4 separate regions of the Homo sapiens genome follow, and all the other regions are linked to region 2. The links come from fine-mapping of genetic effects on gene expression. A gene starts in region 2. Each other region holds a variant in brackets. All regions are shown on one strand. Distances are between the middles of the regions.

The links.
Region 1: its variant is fine-mapped to the expression of SLC1A2 in sun-exposed skin (GTEx, PIP above 0.99).
Region 3: its variant is fine-mapped to the expression of SLC1A2 in fibroblasts (GTEx, PIP 0.97).
Region 4: its variant is fine-mapped to the expression of SLC1A2 in left ventricle (GTEx, PIP above 0.99).

The regions. Positions count from the first base shown.
Region 1 is chr11:35,221,102-35,225,321 of GRCh38, forward strand. CD44 (CD44 molecule (IN blood group)) reads left to right here. Exons shown (of 18, transcript NM_000610.4): 17 at 553-631. Among named protein-coding and RNA genes, the nearest start is that of CD44-AS1, 8.2 kb to the left of the region's middle. The variant A/G (reference allele first, on the strand shown) is at 2,517.
Region 2 is chr11:35,417,254-35,421,445 of GRCh38, forward strand. It overlaps SLC1A2 (solute carrier family 1 member 2), which reads right to left and starts at 2,305. Exons shown (of 11, transcript NM_004171.4): 1 at 1,697-2,305. The coding sequence starts at 1,713. It overlaps SLC1A2-AS2 (SLC1A2 antisense RNA 2), which reads left to right and starts at 1,804. Exons shown (of 2, transcript NR_186310.1): 1 at 1,804-1,854; 2 at 3,283-3,749. RefSeq lists an enhancer at 1,951-2,451.
Region 3 is chr11:35,537,538-35,541,757 of GRCh38, forward strand. No RefSeq gene overlaps it. Among named protein-coding and RNA genes, the nearest start is that of PAMR1, 14 kb to the left of the region's middle. The variant T/C (reference allele first, on the strand shown) is at 2,500.
Region 4 is chr11:35,378,347-35,382,346 of GRCh38, forward strand. The region is part of intron 1 of SLC1A2 (solute carrier family 1 member 2); the gene reads right to left. Among named protein-coding and RNA genes, the nearest start is that of SLC1A2-AS2, 39 kb to the right of the region's middle. The variant C/T (reference allele first, on the strand shown) is at 2,192.

The sequences.
Region 1 (4,220 bases), 200 kb before region 2:
TACACCTTACACGGTGTTTAGCAAACATTGCCTACTGGTTAACCATGGCTTCCATGTCATTGAATATTTCCTCCTCATATTGTAGTGCGTAATGCAATAGATGTACCCTAATTTATTTAACCAATCCTTTATTGCCTCCATTTTTGTTTTTTAATACAATGTAAGGTGGATAGGTGGATGCTCTTATACAGGAAAAAAATGTTCCTTTCAAAAGAAGCCTACATTTCCTTTTATATGTTTAATAATATTATACCAAAGGCATCTACAAGATTCAACAAGTCATCCTGTCCTTTTTTAGAAACATAGTTCTCCTGAAGGGACTTGAAAATCCTGACTGATGATAAAAGATTAAAGCAAGAAGGCTGTTGGACAAATACCTTCAGCAAATTGCTCTTCCAGAATTACCTGCCTATTGGCTGGACCTATTGGCCAGACCCCCCTGCAGCGCTGACTGTGGTGCTTGTTTCAACTAGGTCAATTATAAAGTGCATTTTTGTTTTTACAAAGTGTGTCTCTGAAGCTCACGCATGTCATTTAATTTACTCATACCAGAATGGCTGATCATCTTGGCATCCCTCTTGGCCTTGGCTTTGATTCTTGCAGTTTGCATTGCAGTCAACAGTCGAAGAAGGTAAGGGGCTGTCCTGGGGGCTTTCAACTTGGAAAGGGCATCATTTAAACCTGGGCTTTATATCCTTGCTGCTCAGAGCGTAGTCCCTGGAACCAGCAGCCTGGGTACCCTGGGAGTTTGTTGGAAATGCACAATCTCAGACCCAACCCCAGACCTCCTATGGCAGAGTCTGCATCTTAACAAGTTTCCAGGGATTCATGTGCATGGTGCAGCTTAAGACATCTTTCTCTGCCCCGGTTTTTAGAGACAGGAGACACCTGTGATTGTTTGGCTCATCACTTTTAGGTAGTGGTTGAATCCTTTGTGATTTTACATGTTTTTTAGGGTTAAACCTCATGCAGACTCTGTCTGATGAAAGTTATGAAGTATCTCACCAGGAAGGCACACAAAAGTATATACTCATTCATTGATTTGTTAAATATTTATTAAATACATTCACAATGCACAAATATCGTATAAAGATTCAGTGATTCATCATCCCCTGTAGCCTCTCTGAGGCCCAGGGAACCTTTAAGAACTTTTACCAGAAGGAAGTATTGGCCTTGTGCTTTTGTTTGTCGTTTGTTTTTTTATTGGCCTTGTGCTTTTGTTTGTTGTTTGGTTTTTGTAATGATATCATTTTCTATTTTCTGGGAACTGTAGTTGAAGAGATTCAGGTTATAGCATAAGAAGAGCACTGTTTCATCGTCTTCTTGCTGTTAGGAGGTCTATGAAGCAGAGAAGAACTTTCCTTTGGAAAACAACTAAATGAAGACAGTCACCTCGCTAGAACTGACACATGGGCTGTTTTTATATTCTTGAAGGCCACTCTCTCCCTACCTGAACCAAGACCTATAGGTTTACATGTTATTTACATTTTATATATAATATATATATATATATATACACATACATTATATATACACAATAGTAATTCTAGCAACAGAGGAAATGACCTTTAACAGGGGTATAAATCTAAATTTATAAAAGTATAAATCTAAATTTCTTACCCAAGACACTTTAAAGATACATTATTTTTCTCCAGGACGTAATTCATAGGAATATTAAGCCTTTTGTAAATGTCCCTTTAGATGGTTTCTCATAAGGTAAAAGAAACTTATTTCCAAGCAGGACCACCTTTATTGTGTCCCCAGATCACCTCACAGGGCAGAAAAATGCCCCTCAGTCTGGGAGAAGACCTAGAGAGAATTATGGACTCCTTACTGGTTTTTGGAAAGCAACCAACAGCTAATTCCAACACCATGGGCAGCCCATACAGTCTCTAATTATCTGAGAAAATCAAATGATGCTGTTACAATAATTACGCTGGTACAAGTTAATAAAAGTGCCATGTTACAGTCAAACAGCTATGTTGCTATCTATACCATTGAGGGCATAGTTTTAAAAAGTAGTTATGCTACCTGATTGTATAAGGAACAAAACTGAGAGAAAAAATCTAAAAGGCCGCCTATGATTGAATGGAAAGATTTTTTTTAGTTGAATTTAAATAATGTGACTTGGGGGAGCCTTTACAAAGAGTCTTTATACCTCCCTTCAGCTTCCTCATTTTCCCTTGGATTACTTTTGCTCAATTAAATATGAATTTCCTATTGTGTGCAATCAGCCCTTTATTGCCAAGCCCTAGAATGCACCACTTTTGCTCACATACACAGTCCATAAGCTTTGCACATGTCACCATAGAAACGCTGGCATGGATGCTGTCGACATTTAGGGAGACCTCGGAGAAGCATCTCAGCTGTCCCTAAGAGCAGCTGGAGTCCATACATTGGGGCTGGGTATCTCCCCCATCGTCTGTGTCTTGTCAGCAGCAGACAGCAGAGAAGGGGCCTCATTGCTGCCCTCTCCCTCCTCCCAAGACCAGCAGTCACCCTGGCAACCGGCAAAC[A/G]GGGACACACAGGGTCCGGCACAGCGAGTATCTCACCAGGAAAGTAGCTGCTTGGATGCCATAAATTACTATGTCCTGATTTGATAATTGAAAACAGATTTGCCACGCAGCTAAAAGGTGGTGAACAGCTGTACGGGCCCCTTAATGGGCTCTGTGATTCTAAAGCTGTCAACCCATTTCTAATCCCCTTCAAAGGCTGAGGCTTTTCTGCTTTGAGTGTCACATTTAAGAGAAAGAGATACAGAATCCTATTTTCATCAGAGAAAGTTTGGTTGAAAATGGGGCCTCCAATAGGTGTTCATTTATTCAGCAAACATCTTTTGAGTGGCTCCTGTGACTACCAGCCCTGGCAAGGAGAAAGAGAAGGTAAAAAACAAAAAGAGTACCACCCCTTTTCTAAAAGAATCTTGAGGTTTAGTGGCAGTATTGGCCTCTTGAATTTGAATTGGCTAATATTTATTGAGAACATTCCCTGTGCCAGACACTGTTATATAAATTATGGTTAAAAGACAAAAGTGGAAAATCATTAGTCTCTGAAGTTGACATACAAGGATGGGTCATGGGCTTGCATGATGAAGTGATCTGTGAGTCACGTTGTCTTAAAGATGCTGGGTTGGGGGTTCTATTACTTCTTTAGGTTTTTCCACCCCTGCCATCATCCAAAACAGCTTTCTTTGCTGTTCCTCATGTCACCTGACTCCTTGAGTTACAGCTCTCCAAGAGAAATCATATTTTATTCCCTTTTCATGAGAGCACATAATTATTTTAGGAGTCAGTTGGGTTGATAGATACTGCGTGAGGCTCCAGAGAAGATTTTCCTTTAAAGAATCTATCTGGGCCAGGTGCAGTGGCTCACTCCATGTGCAGTGGCTCACTTTGGGAGGCCGAGGCAGTGGATTAGTTGAGCCTAGGAGTTCAAGACCAGCCTGGGCAACATGGCGAAACCCCATCTCTACAAAAAACACAAAAATTAGCCGGGCATAGTGGCGCATGCCTGTGGTCTCAGCTGCTCGGGAGGTTGAGGTAGAAGAATCGCTTGAGCCCCGGGAGGTGGAGGCAGCAGTGAGCCATGATAGTGCCACTACAGCCTGGGCAACAGAGTGAGACCCTGTCTCAAACAAACAAGCAAACAAACAAACAAACAAAAACCTATCTTATTTGTCTAAAGAGGAGAAAAAAACATGAGAACTTTACTATGTTGCTTGTACATAAAAGCTGTTCATCAGCCTTCACTTTAATGGGAATAATCGTCTTTTCTATAAACCCCAGCAGGCAGTCACCCACACTCCAATCAGTAGGTCTTCTCTACGCATCGCCATAATTTAGAAATATTTTCCTTCTCTTATGCTACAGTCTAGCTCCTGCAATCTGAGCTCACCCAACCTCGTCCTGCTGTCTAGAACAGTGCTATGCAATAGAACTTTCTGTGATGATGGAAATATTCTATACCTCCACTGTCCAATATATAACTACTAGCCACAACTGAGCACTTGAACTATGGCTAGTTCAACTGAGGAAGTGAATTTTTAATTTCATTTCATTGTAATTAGTTTAAATTCAAATAGCCAAATGTGGCTGGTGGCTACCATATTGGATGGCACAGCTCTAAAACAGTGCAAAATAAATCCCTAAATATCGTTAAGGATTGTCAGGTAGAAGAGTCATGAGATCAGTTGCCAAGTTACCCACCTAAATCTTTTAAGA
Region 2 (4,192 bases):
TCACATCATTTGACAGCTTTCATTTAGGACAAAGGTGAAATAAACTTACTTAGTTTGGGGTTGTTGTTGTAACCTCTCCTTCTCTATCTGGCCATCAAAATAGGGAGTGAGCTGGATGCAGGATTTGGAAGACTAATATCATCCATCTTTTTCACAGATGTTTTCCACCCTAGCCTTTACAAGCAAGGATAAGTCTAGAAGGTCCATGAAGGCAACCAGAAATTCTTTCATATCTTTTCTAATATAAAAGCCTTTTTAACTAAACATGGTAAGACACTGATCTTGATCCATATGGGCTCCTAGTATCTATTTCTAGAGATCTGTTTTAGCACAAGGTACCACCCTCCTTGTACACAGGTGTCTTCCTGAAACATCTTTTTGGAGAAATAATAATCAAAAAAGTCTAAACTGCAAAATAGGGCAAAGGGAGAGACAAAATTTCATGCAATGACAAGATGCCAGATGCCTTTGGAAGGACTCTGGGGGACAGAAAATGAATGAATTCCTTCTCCTGGACAGAGAGACAGTTCTAGAAATATTTTCCTTCTATTGGAGATTGCAGTCTAGAGATCTGGCTTTGGATACCAGCTCTTCAGCCTGTTTAGAGATCCATTCCCCTAAAACAAGCCTGCGGAGTTGGTAAAATTTCTTAGGAGAAACTGGAAAATGCCAACACCACCACTTGAGCCCAGAGAAGCCCCTGATATTTGCTTTTCACATAACATGGATTTTGTGATCGCTTGCAAGTGAGTAACTGCAATTTTGGGAATTAACCAAAGGGCTGAGCTGCCCAGTCTTTTCATTGCCACTCAGGTTCTACGAAGCCCAAAAAGTTTTCTGGGAGATACTGGTCCAAGGACTCTGTGGACCTTTCCTTTGATGTGTGAGTATTCAAAGAATCCTTTTGCCCCCTGCAGCCCCTTCTGTCTCTTGCTAAAGACAATTGTCTTTAGTTATCACTGCGAGGGAGCTTTCCCCATGCCAGCTGGAATCTTGGGAGGCAGGACACGACTCCAGATCCTCGGGCTGAATAGGGAAGCCAATGCTATCCCTGCCCGCTGGAGTCTGGCGACTCCTGCCCTTGTCCCAAACCACACGTTTTCCCGCCTCCCGGGAAGCACCCAAATCTCTTCCACCCTTCCTTAGAGCTAGCCAGGGAGATTCCGCCTTCCAGGGACAAGGACCGATCGGAGCGGGCCCAGCATCTCCATGGCGACTCTGCAAACCTGGCGTTCAAGGCCGCGCGCGCTGGTCCTTGCCCCGCCCCAGGGCCCTGTCTTGGCTCATTCCTTCCGAGCCGGCACCACCTGCAAGCCCGCCTCGGGCCTGGGGCGCCGCGCTCCAGGCGCTGCTACCCCGGTGTCTGCTCACACTATGCCCAATCCCCTATTGTTTTGAAATCCCAAAAGTAACCTCAAGAGGATTTCTTCCTCACACTCTCAGGCCCCCAGCGCACCTTACCCTTTTTATCAAAATAAAACAACCCTCCACCTCTCGCATTTTCAAAGGATTAAGCAGCAATCTCCAGGAAAGAAAATCAATCCCCTCCCCACCATCCCATCCCCAGCCAAGCTACGGCTCCGCCACCACCTCCGAGGCCCGCCGCCGCCGCCTCTCTATCCGCATCCCGGATAGGGGCGCCACCACCCCGCGCGTGACCCCGCTTTCCCGCGGGTACAGATAAAAATCCCCTCACCCTTCCGTAGATGCCATGGTCTGGGGAACGCCCCCTCCTCTTCAGCACTATCCGGCAGCTGTGGGCGAGGGAGAAAGCGGACGCCGGGGTGAGCGCGAAGTGCGGCCGGGAGCGGTATTTAAGAGGAGCCTCTGCCCGCCCTTCCACCCGCCTCCGGGGTAAGCCCTTTAGCGCCTCAACGGGCGCAGGAGGCTCCTGCGGGCGCTAATCCGCGTCCCGGCTCTCCACGGCGCGCGACCCGCGCTCCCCTCCGCCCGCGGGGATGGCGCTTGGCGGGGAGCTCCGGGGGCTCCGAGGGTGGCTTCCCCGAGAGAGCGATGCGCCCAGGGCTGCAGGAGGGCGCACGCCGGCGATGCGCCCCTGCAGCCGCTGCCACCTGTGCTTTGCTGCGGGGCTCGCGGGCGCGGCGAGTGGCGGGAGCAGAGAGTGGTGGCAGAGGACGGTGAGCGTGCGTGCGCGTGTGCGGGTGTGTGCGCGCCTGGGGAGGCGGTGGAGGCCGCTGCGCTCTGGCTCGGCGCCGGCCAGGGAGGGATTGCAAGGTTTAGCCCCGCCGGAGCTGGGGATTTGCAGGCGATCCCTCTCTATTTTCGTCGAGAGCTGACATCACCCGCGCCGCCGCCTCGGGCAACTCCTTTAACCGCCGCCCCCCGCCCCCATCTCCAGTCGCGGTCCCTCCTCTGCCATCCCTCCCCCCAGCCTCTCGCCATAAATTAGCCAAATAAGAAAAGAGGCCCCGCCGCTCGTCCGGGAAGGCTTGGGCAGCCGGTGGCAGGAGCCCAGGATCTAAGGAGTAGCTATTGTTTCCCCTGAAGCCCGCGTGGCCCCAGGTCACCCCGTGCGGGGTGAAGCGCAGGCGACCGCGCGGAGACCCGGGATGCCCCTCCGTCTCCGCCTCCCTGGAGCAGCCCCTGGCGCTCCCTCCTCACTCCCCGGAGCACCCGCTTCAGCTCACACTCACCCCCAAACTCACAGGCAGGCACACCCACCCCATCCTCCCACGTCTGGGGGTCCCAGGTCCAGCGGAGTCGAGCGGCTGAAACACGCGGGTGGTGCAGCCTAAACGCGGCCCAGCTGCGCTCCCTCCCCCGCCGAAGCTCGAATAAATCTCTGGCCTTCAATTATTCAGCGAGATTAATATTAATGCAGCTCCCTGGGGGCGGCGGGCGGGGTGCAGGGGAGGCCGGGATTTTTTTTTTTTTTTTTTAGGCCGAGAGAGGTCGGCCTCGTGGGTGCCGGCTGAGAAGGCGCGGAGAGTTGGCCGAGGGGTGAGTGGCGGGGGACGGTTCTCCACCCACTCGGCGCTGCTCGCCGCCTGCTTCCGTGTCCCGGGGGCGGCGCACAGAGACAGATGGGCTTGTGCAAGGGAGAGTTCGAGCCTTCCGGACGCCTTTGCATAAAAATGACGAGACCTGTGCAGCTTTGATTATCTCTGGAATACTGCAGGAACCTAGGGTCCCACTACTTGCCGACCCTGTGAGCGCAGAGCAGGCAAAGCCTCACTTTCCTCGTCTAGGCAATGGAACCCAAAAGAACTCACTTGGAGGGCCACAGGAGAATTAAACAGACTCTCTTTTTCCCCGGGGTAGACGATCTTCGGATTTGCGCTGTGCTGGACCTTGTTAGACGATGGAACGCGACCGGCCACGTGCAAACTCTCTGAGTAGGTCCCGGGGATGGTGCCAGAGGAGCCGGAGTCCCAGCAGGACCGATTGGTAGTTAAATGCCAGGCGCTGATATCCGAAGGCTTGAGTTCTTCACCACCTTCTAGCTGAGTAACCTGGGGCAAATTCCTCCATCTCTCTCTTCATCCCACCTGTAAAATGGGACTATCTTCTCCCACTTCTCTGTGCTAAGAGAACTAAATGAAATGGAGAGGATATGTAAAACTCCTAAAGTGGCGTCTGGCACCCAGTAAACCCTCCAAAAATATTCAGTGCATTTTCAGAGTCCTTAGAAGATAGTTTATTGGACAAAATATCCAAGTATGAACAGACAGATGAGAAAAATAACAAGAAAAAGAGGGGAAAACACATTAATAAAATTTAAAAAATAAATCTCTGCTTACCTCCTTCCTTTACTCTCCTTTCCAAAATCTGAATCCAAACGTCATCTTCCATCCATGCCTTTCTCCATCTCTCCCCTCCCCCCTTCTCTCTCAATCCTGTCTGCACCATTAGAATAATCATGTCTGTACCTTATTCATCCTAGGTTCCTTCAGAACCACTCTAACTTTGCATTTTCTTTATTTAAAAAAAAATGCCATAAGCATCTCTTCGTCTTAGGGCATTTGACTTTGGGTACTCTTCTCTTCCGAAAAATTAGTTATTGTTTAACCTGGTAAATGTGTTTAAAAATAATTTGTAGATGAAGAGCTATCTTCTTTCACTTTGGTATTATGTTTGACACTCTCCTCTTAAGCCCCGTCAAGGGTAAGTGTGTGTCTTTGTATCTGAAGTTGTCACATATACAAACTTTACAGTCTAATTGTCTAACTTT
Region 3 (4,220 bases), 120 kb after region 2:
CAGAGACATCTTGGGCAAGCTGGTTTTTTGTTTGTTTGTTTTTGTTTTTGTTTTGAGATGGAGTCTGGCCCTGTCGCCCATGCTGGAGTGCAGTGGCTTGATCTCAGCTCACTGCAACATCCACCTCCTGGGCTGAATTGATTCTTCTGCCTCAGCCTCCTGAGTAGCTGGGACTACAAGCGCATGCCACCACACCCAGCTAATTTTTGTATTTTTAGTAGAGACAGGGTTTCACCATGTTGCCCAGGCTGGTCTCGAATTCCTGACCTCAAGTGATCCACCCGCCTCAGCTTCCCAAAGTGCTGGGATTACAGGCATGAGCCACAACACCCAGCCCAGGCTGGCTTTTGTCTGTCCCTGCAGTCACACCACATAGAGTCACCCAGTCTGGTGACAACTTGCTGGCATCAGCATCAATGCACACTTCCAAGTCTCAGTGGCCTCAAGAAAATATCAGTGATATATGTAAGTTCCCTCAAACTCCCTGAGGTACCAAGAGAAGCAAGGCTAGAACTCAGATCTCCATCTTAGCTATCAACTCTGGGAAAATTAACCTTCATCTCTGGGCCTCAGCTTCCTCCTCTGTAAAGTGAAGTGTTAAGCTCTGTGATCTCTAAAGTCCACTAAGCTTCTAACTTCAGTGGGTTTATTCTACATAAAGCTGAGTTTCTCAGGTCTCTGACCTGTGGGTAGCAACTGGTCACCTATCACAGCCATTCCCACACTTCACTGCTCTTTCTCCCATAGGATCCTAGGGAACATCAACGCCCCCATGAGATCTCAGTCTCCTGTATCCCAGCATCCCTTGGAAGTGTCTCTCAGGTGCTCACAAACCAACAAGTCACCATTAGACACAATGCATCCAGTTGCAACCATTGGATTTTTCTCTTCTCCCACCTCACTCACCTATGTTGCCTGCATCTGAAGGCCCCCAGGAGTTGGCAATGCTTGCCTCCCAGCGGCCGTGGATGCCAGTCCTTCACAAGAATGCCAATGTCCACGGCAAGGGTGCTACCTACCACTGCTCCCACAGCTGCTCTAAGTGCCAGCAGGCCGCTCTGGTCCATTCAGAAGTGAGGAGATTGTCCCTCTCCCCTCAGCATCACATGGGGTCACCCAGACCTTCAAAAGGGCCTCCTTGTGCCCTCAAGAGTCACAGAGACTCTTGTGTAAACAGTTTCTCATTCTTTCCTTTAGGAGCCTCCTTTCCACTGGACTCAAATGCATGGCTGACTTCAAGGGCTCCTCCCCATCCCCTGGTTCCTCCGTGTTAAGGGTGGGAGAGCTGTCCTGCAAATCACCTCCTGATCTCCGCTAACCCCCCGTCACTGCTTCTGCAGACATGAATTCCATTTTAGGCTAAAGTTGAGACATCCCCACTGTCCCAAGCGATTCTCAGTATGCCAAACCCCAAGGCCAGGTAAAAAGAAAGAATTATCTTCTCCAATTCTTCCTCCCAATGTATTCTAGAAGCAGACCTGGGTCTCCAAAGAATGCCTGTGACAAAGAGTATTGCTGGTGATTTTTAAAATTCTGTACTGGCTGACAAAGAATAATCAAATTGATGAGGGAATAAAATAATATACAGTTAAAAAAATGCTTTCTAGTGGCCAATGTAGGGGGCCTGGAGGCAAAAATATAGGCTCAATGCTTAGTCTGGAAAATCTACCACTCTATTTTTAGAACCAAAGAAAAGAGGCTTGTATAAGGACAAGGCACAATAACAGCTATTTTTCTCCCTCTAGGAATGAGGATTAAAAAGTGGTTATTAAGAGTCTGGATCCAGGATTCTGAGTGAAGAAACCTGGAATCTAAGCATGACTCTATGATCCGTGCTCCCTGCCTGTAACCCAGAGAGCGCAAGTCAGACCACATACTCCTGTAAGGGAGACATCCATTCAATAATTGATGACTCAATTTCAACCAAGACAATGCATATGACCAGAAGCCCAGACCTAGGCTAAGGGAGCAGGGAAGGCTTCCTGGAGGAAGTGTTGCCAGAGCTGAATGTTAAAGGATGAAGAAGAATTGATGGGATATTAATAGATGGAGTGATACATTAGTGTTCCAGGCATGGGGGAAGCAACACTTGCAAAGGCAGGCTGGGCAGGAACGTGGTGTGTGTGGCAACTGAAAAAAGGCCAGTGTAAACCAAAGCCCAGAGATCAAAAGGAGTATTTTATGAGTGGAGGCTGATAAGTTAAGCAGTTCTCTGTTAAGGACTTTGTCTTTAACTTAAAGGGGGGTGGTCGCCAGCCTGCAAGACGGTGTCTCATAATTTTGGCCTCCTGGTTGTCACGAACCTTGCATGATCCCCTCCCACAGTGTACCAGGGTTGGTATGTGTGACCCATCACAGATGGGAGTAGTGACCGCACATCCCTCCCGAGATTAGTTTATGAAAGACACTGCTGCCTCCATCTGCACTCCCTCCTGGATCACGTGCCTTGCGGGAAGTCATGTCCTGAGCAGCCCTGAGGACAGGCTCCCAGGCAAGGAA[T/C]GAAAGCTTCCTGACAACAACCATCTGAGTAAGCTGCTGGAGAGAAAAAGCTGTTTTCCCTCTACCCATCTTAGATTCATTGGTTGGCTGGGCTCTGCAAATTAGACTGATAAAAGTCAGATAAACAAGAGAAAAACAAGCAGAATTGCATTAACATGTGCATGACACATACACATGGGAACACCCAGTGAGTAACACAAAGGGGTGGCTAGAACTTGGGCTTATATTGCATCTTAACAAAAGAACCATACAGTTTTAGAGAAGTGATAAGACAAAGGAAAAGGACTTTGAGCTTCTAGGGGTGGCAAATTATGGAAAGGCAAATACATGTGGGGGCTAATGGAAGAGAAGGACTCATTGGTAAGGTTTTTAATGAAGATTTCTCTGGTGCCCTCTCTGGGCTTATAAGGGTCTACTGTTGTCTCTAGTGACTAACTTCTGTCCTTCCTGGTAGGGAGAAGAGAGAGGGCACCTTTACAAACTTACATCGTGTTTCTGGCAAGTAGAGGGAGGGCAGATAACTCTTCTTGTATCTATCTGCTTTTCCTCCTTTGCCTTCAGCTCAAAATAATTCTTAAGCCAAAATGGCATATTTTGGGGTGGCATTTTCTGCTATCCTTCAGAGTCATCTTGGAAATGATGAAATCCAGCCCCAGTCAAGTCTTCAGAAACCACAGCCCCAGCTGGCATCTTGACCGCAACCTGATGAGAGAACCATAAACCCAAGCTGCCCCCAGATCCCTGACCCTCAGAAACCACGTGAGATAATACATGTTAGTTGTTTTAAGATGCCATATCTTAGGGTAATTTGTTATGCAGCAATAGGTAACTAATACGTAAGAGCAGCAACAGAATTAAACTTGCTAACTGTGACTTTGAACAAGTCACTTCACCTCTCTGGGCATCAGTTTCTCTCTTCACCTATAAACAGAGAGGAATAGGCTTGGGTAATAGAATGTTAGCCCAGGAAAGATTTTAGATATAATCTAAGAAGGCCACAAGTCCCTGAGGGCAGAAGAGTGGGCATGGATGGGGACCCAGAATGACCCAAGCTGCAAGGCAGCCGGGAGTGTAATAATAACAAAAGCCTAATATTTATTGGTCACTTACCCTGTGCTAGGCACAGTGCATGCATTATCTCATGTAATTCTCCCATCTAGCCTGAGTTAGGCACTGGATTGCCCCAATTTTACAGAAAGGAATGCGAGGCACAGAAACACTAAGTCAATGACAATCCCATCCTTCCATGCTTCTGAAAGTTGCAAATAAGTTGTTTGGGTCTAGAAGTAACTGCTACTAAATGCAAAGCAGAAATCACTTGCTCTTTTGCCATCCCCTTGGTTCCTCCCCAACACCACCCTCATCAGCATCCTCTAGAAAATCATCCCGACCAGATAATTATTAAAGTGGCCCCATTCTACCTCCTGGGTACAAATTCCAAATTTTCAACCCCACTCGGCCTGGGAGTTTGGAGGTGGGGGCCATAAATGGCAGTGGGATGTGGTGTTGATGGTAAAAGCCAAGCAGCAGCCACACAAGTGCCTTCCAATCATTCATTTCCTGACAAAACACTACAAAGATGGCCATTGAAAATTTCTCCAGACTCATTGGAATTTGGGGTCTTTGTTCCCATGTCTGGAAACACATCAACCTGCCAATTCTGGTAACAGAGTCTACGATGATGCTCTTGGCTTTCATTGTTTTTGGCAAAAGCACTGCTA
Region 4 (4,000 bases), 39 kb before region 2:
AGACAGCAGTATTAGCTTGTGGCTGCATAGTAGACATCGTTCATCAAAAACAGAAGAAATACCAAGAAAAAATATTGATGCTAGCTGGTCTGAAGCAGTTTAAAATTGTCACAAACCTGCACTGATTTGTTAGCATCTTTATCTCTGAAAGCGCTCACCCTTATTCACATCAGCAATTTGTGTCTTTAGGAATAACTGAAAATTTTCATGAAAACTAAGAACCACCTAGTATAAGATTAAGAACCTTTCCAATGCATTGGAGACAAGAAGGACAGGGTGAAAAAATAAGTCTGCCTGTAACTGAAGCTCTCAATTGGATTGATAAGTCTTGTGCCTTGAACTTACTGCTCACAAAAGCAACAAGAGTGTGACAGGCAAGAGTGTCTCCAGACTAATATATAACCCGTGGTTCTCTTCAGTTAAGCTCTATGAATAGTTGTCTATAAGGATGCAGTTAAAGTTGGCAATACCTGGCCAGATTGGCAAGGATGCATAGCCAATGCGGCTAAATGTAGCTCATGGAAGGGGAAGGAGAAGATGGAGGGGTAAGTCTGAAGCTCCATTGTCTGTGAATTAAATGCATTAAAATTTGTGACACATGGCCAGGCGCAGTGACTCATGCCTGTAATCCCAGCACTTTGGGAGGCCGAGGGGGATGGATCACCTGAGGTCAGGAGTTCGAGACCAGCCTGGCCAACATGGAGAAACCCCATGTCTACTAAAAATACAAAAGTAGCCAGGCGTGGTGGTGACATGACTGTAATCCCAGCTACTCAGGAGGCTAAGGCAGGAGTATCGCTTGAAGCTGGGAGGTGGAGGTTGCAGTGAGACGAGATCATGCCATTGCACTCTAGCCTGGGCAACAAGAGCAAAACTCTGTCTCAAAAAAAAAGAAAAATTGTGACACAGAGGGCAGTGCCCGGCACATAGGAAGTCTATGTAAATGCCAGCCTTTGTTATTGCTGCTGCTACTGTTATTACTAATAAAATTTTTAGACTGCCCTGATTCACAAAACTATTGCAAATCCTTTGCCACATTTAGACAATGCAATTTCAATAGGCAATACAGACTTTTTTTTAAGCCAGACATAAAATCCTGGGTAAGCAAACTCCCACCCACAAAGAACATGGCACCTGTGCCTCGGACATATTCCTCGGGAGAGATCACCTAGCAATTTGGGAGCTTAGAAGCCTTTGCTTCAGGCTTGAGAACATGCCAAGGACTCTCCATGAGAATCAGTCTAGGGAGAGAGGAAGAGAGACATTTGATCGCCTTTCCCAGTGAAAAGCATATGTCCGGGGCACGCAGGCTTCCTCCACTCACTTATGGATGGAAACAATGCTAAGCACATTCTGTCCCAAGAACTTACTTATGCTTATCCTTAAGGCTTCACTTTTTAATTTAAATCCCAGGATCCTGCCATAAACCGGCCAATTGAAAGCTTGATCTGAGAACAACTTCTGGGCAATCAATTACTTACGTGGCGAATCCCAACAGCCAAAACAAATGTCATCCAGACATCCCCAGAGTTGGTTAGAAGCTATGGCCATTTTAAATTCTCCTTTCCATGATTATCACTAACAATATTTAATAAACTCCATTTAACCACCGACTGCAAAGACTTTACTTGCACGCTGATACCGGGTCAGGTTCATTATGTTAAGCAGACACCTGATTGTCCCAGGCAATCTATAAAAGGTCATACCTGTTATAATTCCCATGATTCTCATATTTTCATAATCCATCTGATTTTATCATTTAATCCCTCAGCCTGCTTTTGAAAAACCCAAGAGCTCACTGGTTTGATAAGACAATCAACATTAAGCAAGTTCCCAAACTGTAGATGCACAGCATGCAATGCCAATACCCTCAGCTCTGCAGTCCTGTGAAATGAAACACCTCCTTGACATAAGAACACCCTGATGCTCTGGGTGGTTCGACTCCACCTAAAGATTCCATGGAAAAGGCCTTGGCTTTTGCTTTGCTTCTGAAAAATAAGCCAGGTTGTAGCCCTGGTCATTGTGAGCACTAACCTTCTCCAAATGTGGTCCTTGGGCCTCTTCATGGATGCATATGTGCGAGTTATTCTAGGTGATCTCTTGTTAAAGAGTTTTATTTTAAATCCCAGCTAATCTGTGCGACTCCCTGGATTGGTCTGATCTCTCGATACATCTTAGTTCAGGTCTACAG[C/T]GAGCTGCAAAAAGACAGTGCAAACACTTTTGCTGTTTGTCTCCCTCTTTCCCTTTCTTCCAATCAATTCTGTTCCATCAGGAACCCCTCATCTCTTCTGCATAAAGAGGTATATAAATAAAAACAAAATAAATAAATAAAAGGGCTGCGTGAGTTGCTGATTCTCCCTATAGTGACAGCGCTAAGGCAGTTTAAAGAGGGGAGTGTGTGGGTGTCTGCACGGGCAGTGCCTCAGTGCTTCGCTGTTTGTTTTGAGTGCCTCTGGGTATTTTTAGAATCTGTAGGGAGAAGCTGAGCTGCACTGGATGACTGTTATGCTCCCAATGACACCCTGGGCTTAAAGAAACAGGATTCACAGTGACTGCTAAAGTTTCAGGCAATAGAAGACAACATCTGACAAAATTACACGTAGTGGGGATGGAGGTAGAAGAAAAGAGAAGGAAAAGAAAAGAAAACTCCTTGACAAACTAAGTTGGAGTGAAGTATTACAGAGCTCAGGTATAAGTTACTCAATTATGAGATTTTTTTAAGAGTTTGCAGTAGCCACATATATTTTCCTCCTTTCATCCCTTTGTTTCTTTTCTCTTATTTTCATCATTCGGGCAGCTTTTTGGGCAGCCACCTTTTCCATGTCATCCCATCGTGTGATTGTCATCACACGGTGATCCAGACTGGGCAATCAGAGCAATCCTTTCCTACAGTGGTCAGCCCAAGAATGGGTGTGGCTGAAGCCCAGCCAATGAGACTCTTCTCTGGGCCTCTTCCTAGAAGTATCAGAAAAGAGGCACTTTCCATTGCTGAAATCATTTTCTCTGAGGATGCTGTAAGTCTTGAGCTGCCAAACCCATCATTGCCTGAAAGGACAACAACCCAGAAGAAAACCCAACCAAAAGATGGGGAGAGTAGCAAAGTCTAGATAGCCTTTCAGCCCTCTGTCTGCTGTATCCAAAGCCTGCTGAATCCCTAGACATCCCAGTTACCTTACCCATAAAGATCACCCCTTCTTTCTCTTTGAGTTTGAGTCCCACCAAGAACAGCCCGAAAAATCTTCAATAGCTGTCAATTTTTAAAAACATCAGAGGGACACTGAAGTACAAGCCACAGCCTGTCCACTCATGCCTACCCTGCTGGTTCAGAGGACACCAGCCCCCTCAGCGAGGCCCCCAAACTGCTCTTGTTTGCCTCAGAAGACAGGCGGGAAATTCCAACCTGATCCTACTTTGTACTTCAGGAAAACAAAGGGGAGTACGTATTTCTTGTAAGTGTCATATTGCACCTTTTAATTTATTGTCTTTCCCAGAAACACACAACTATGATGATTTCATGTTCTGCAACAATGAGTACTGATCTCTTATCACATAGTCCCCTTCCACTGAGTGAAGTGACAATGAAGAAAATGATGATGAAATTGTAAAAATACAGTACCCTGCACAAAGCCAACAAACAGTAACTGTATCTGTACTTACATGATTGGTTAGATTCCCACAACAACCTTATGAAGCAGGTATGATAACATGCCCATTTTACAGATGAAGATACTGAGGCTTAGAAAAATGGAACAACTTGTGCAAGATGACACAGAAACTAAGAAATGAAATCAAACTCAGCTCCATGTTCCTACAAGGCCCGTGGTAACCACTCTGCATTGCTGTCTCTTCACTGAATCACCCACCACTTGTTGGACCTTTACTTACCATTTGTTTCATACTGTGCTTTCCCTGTGGTCCTTGTCAACCTGTCGATATTTTCACTATTACAGAGATTCTGTTAAACCTATTTTGTTTCTTCCTGATCCTCTTGTGTTTGATT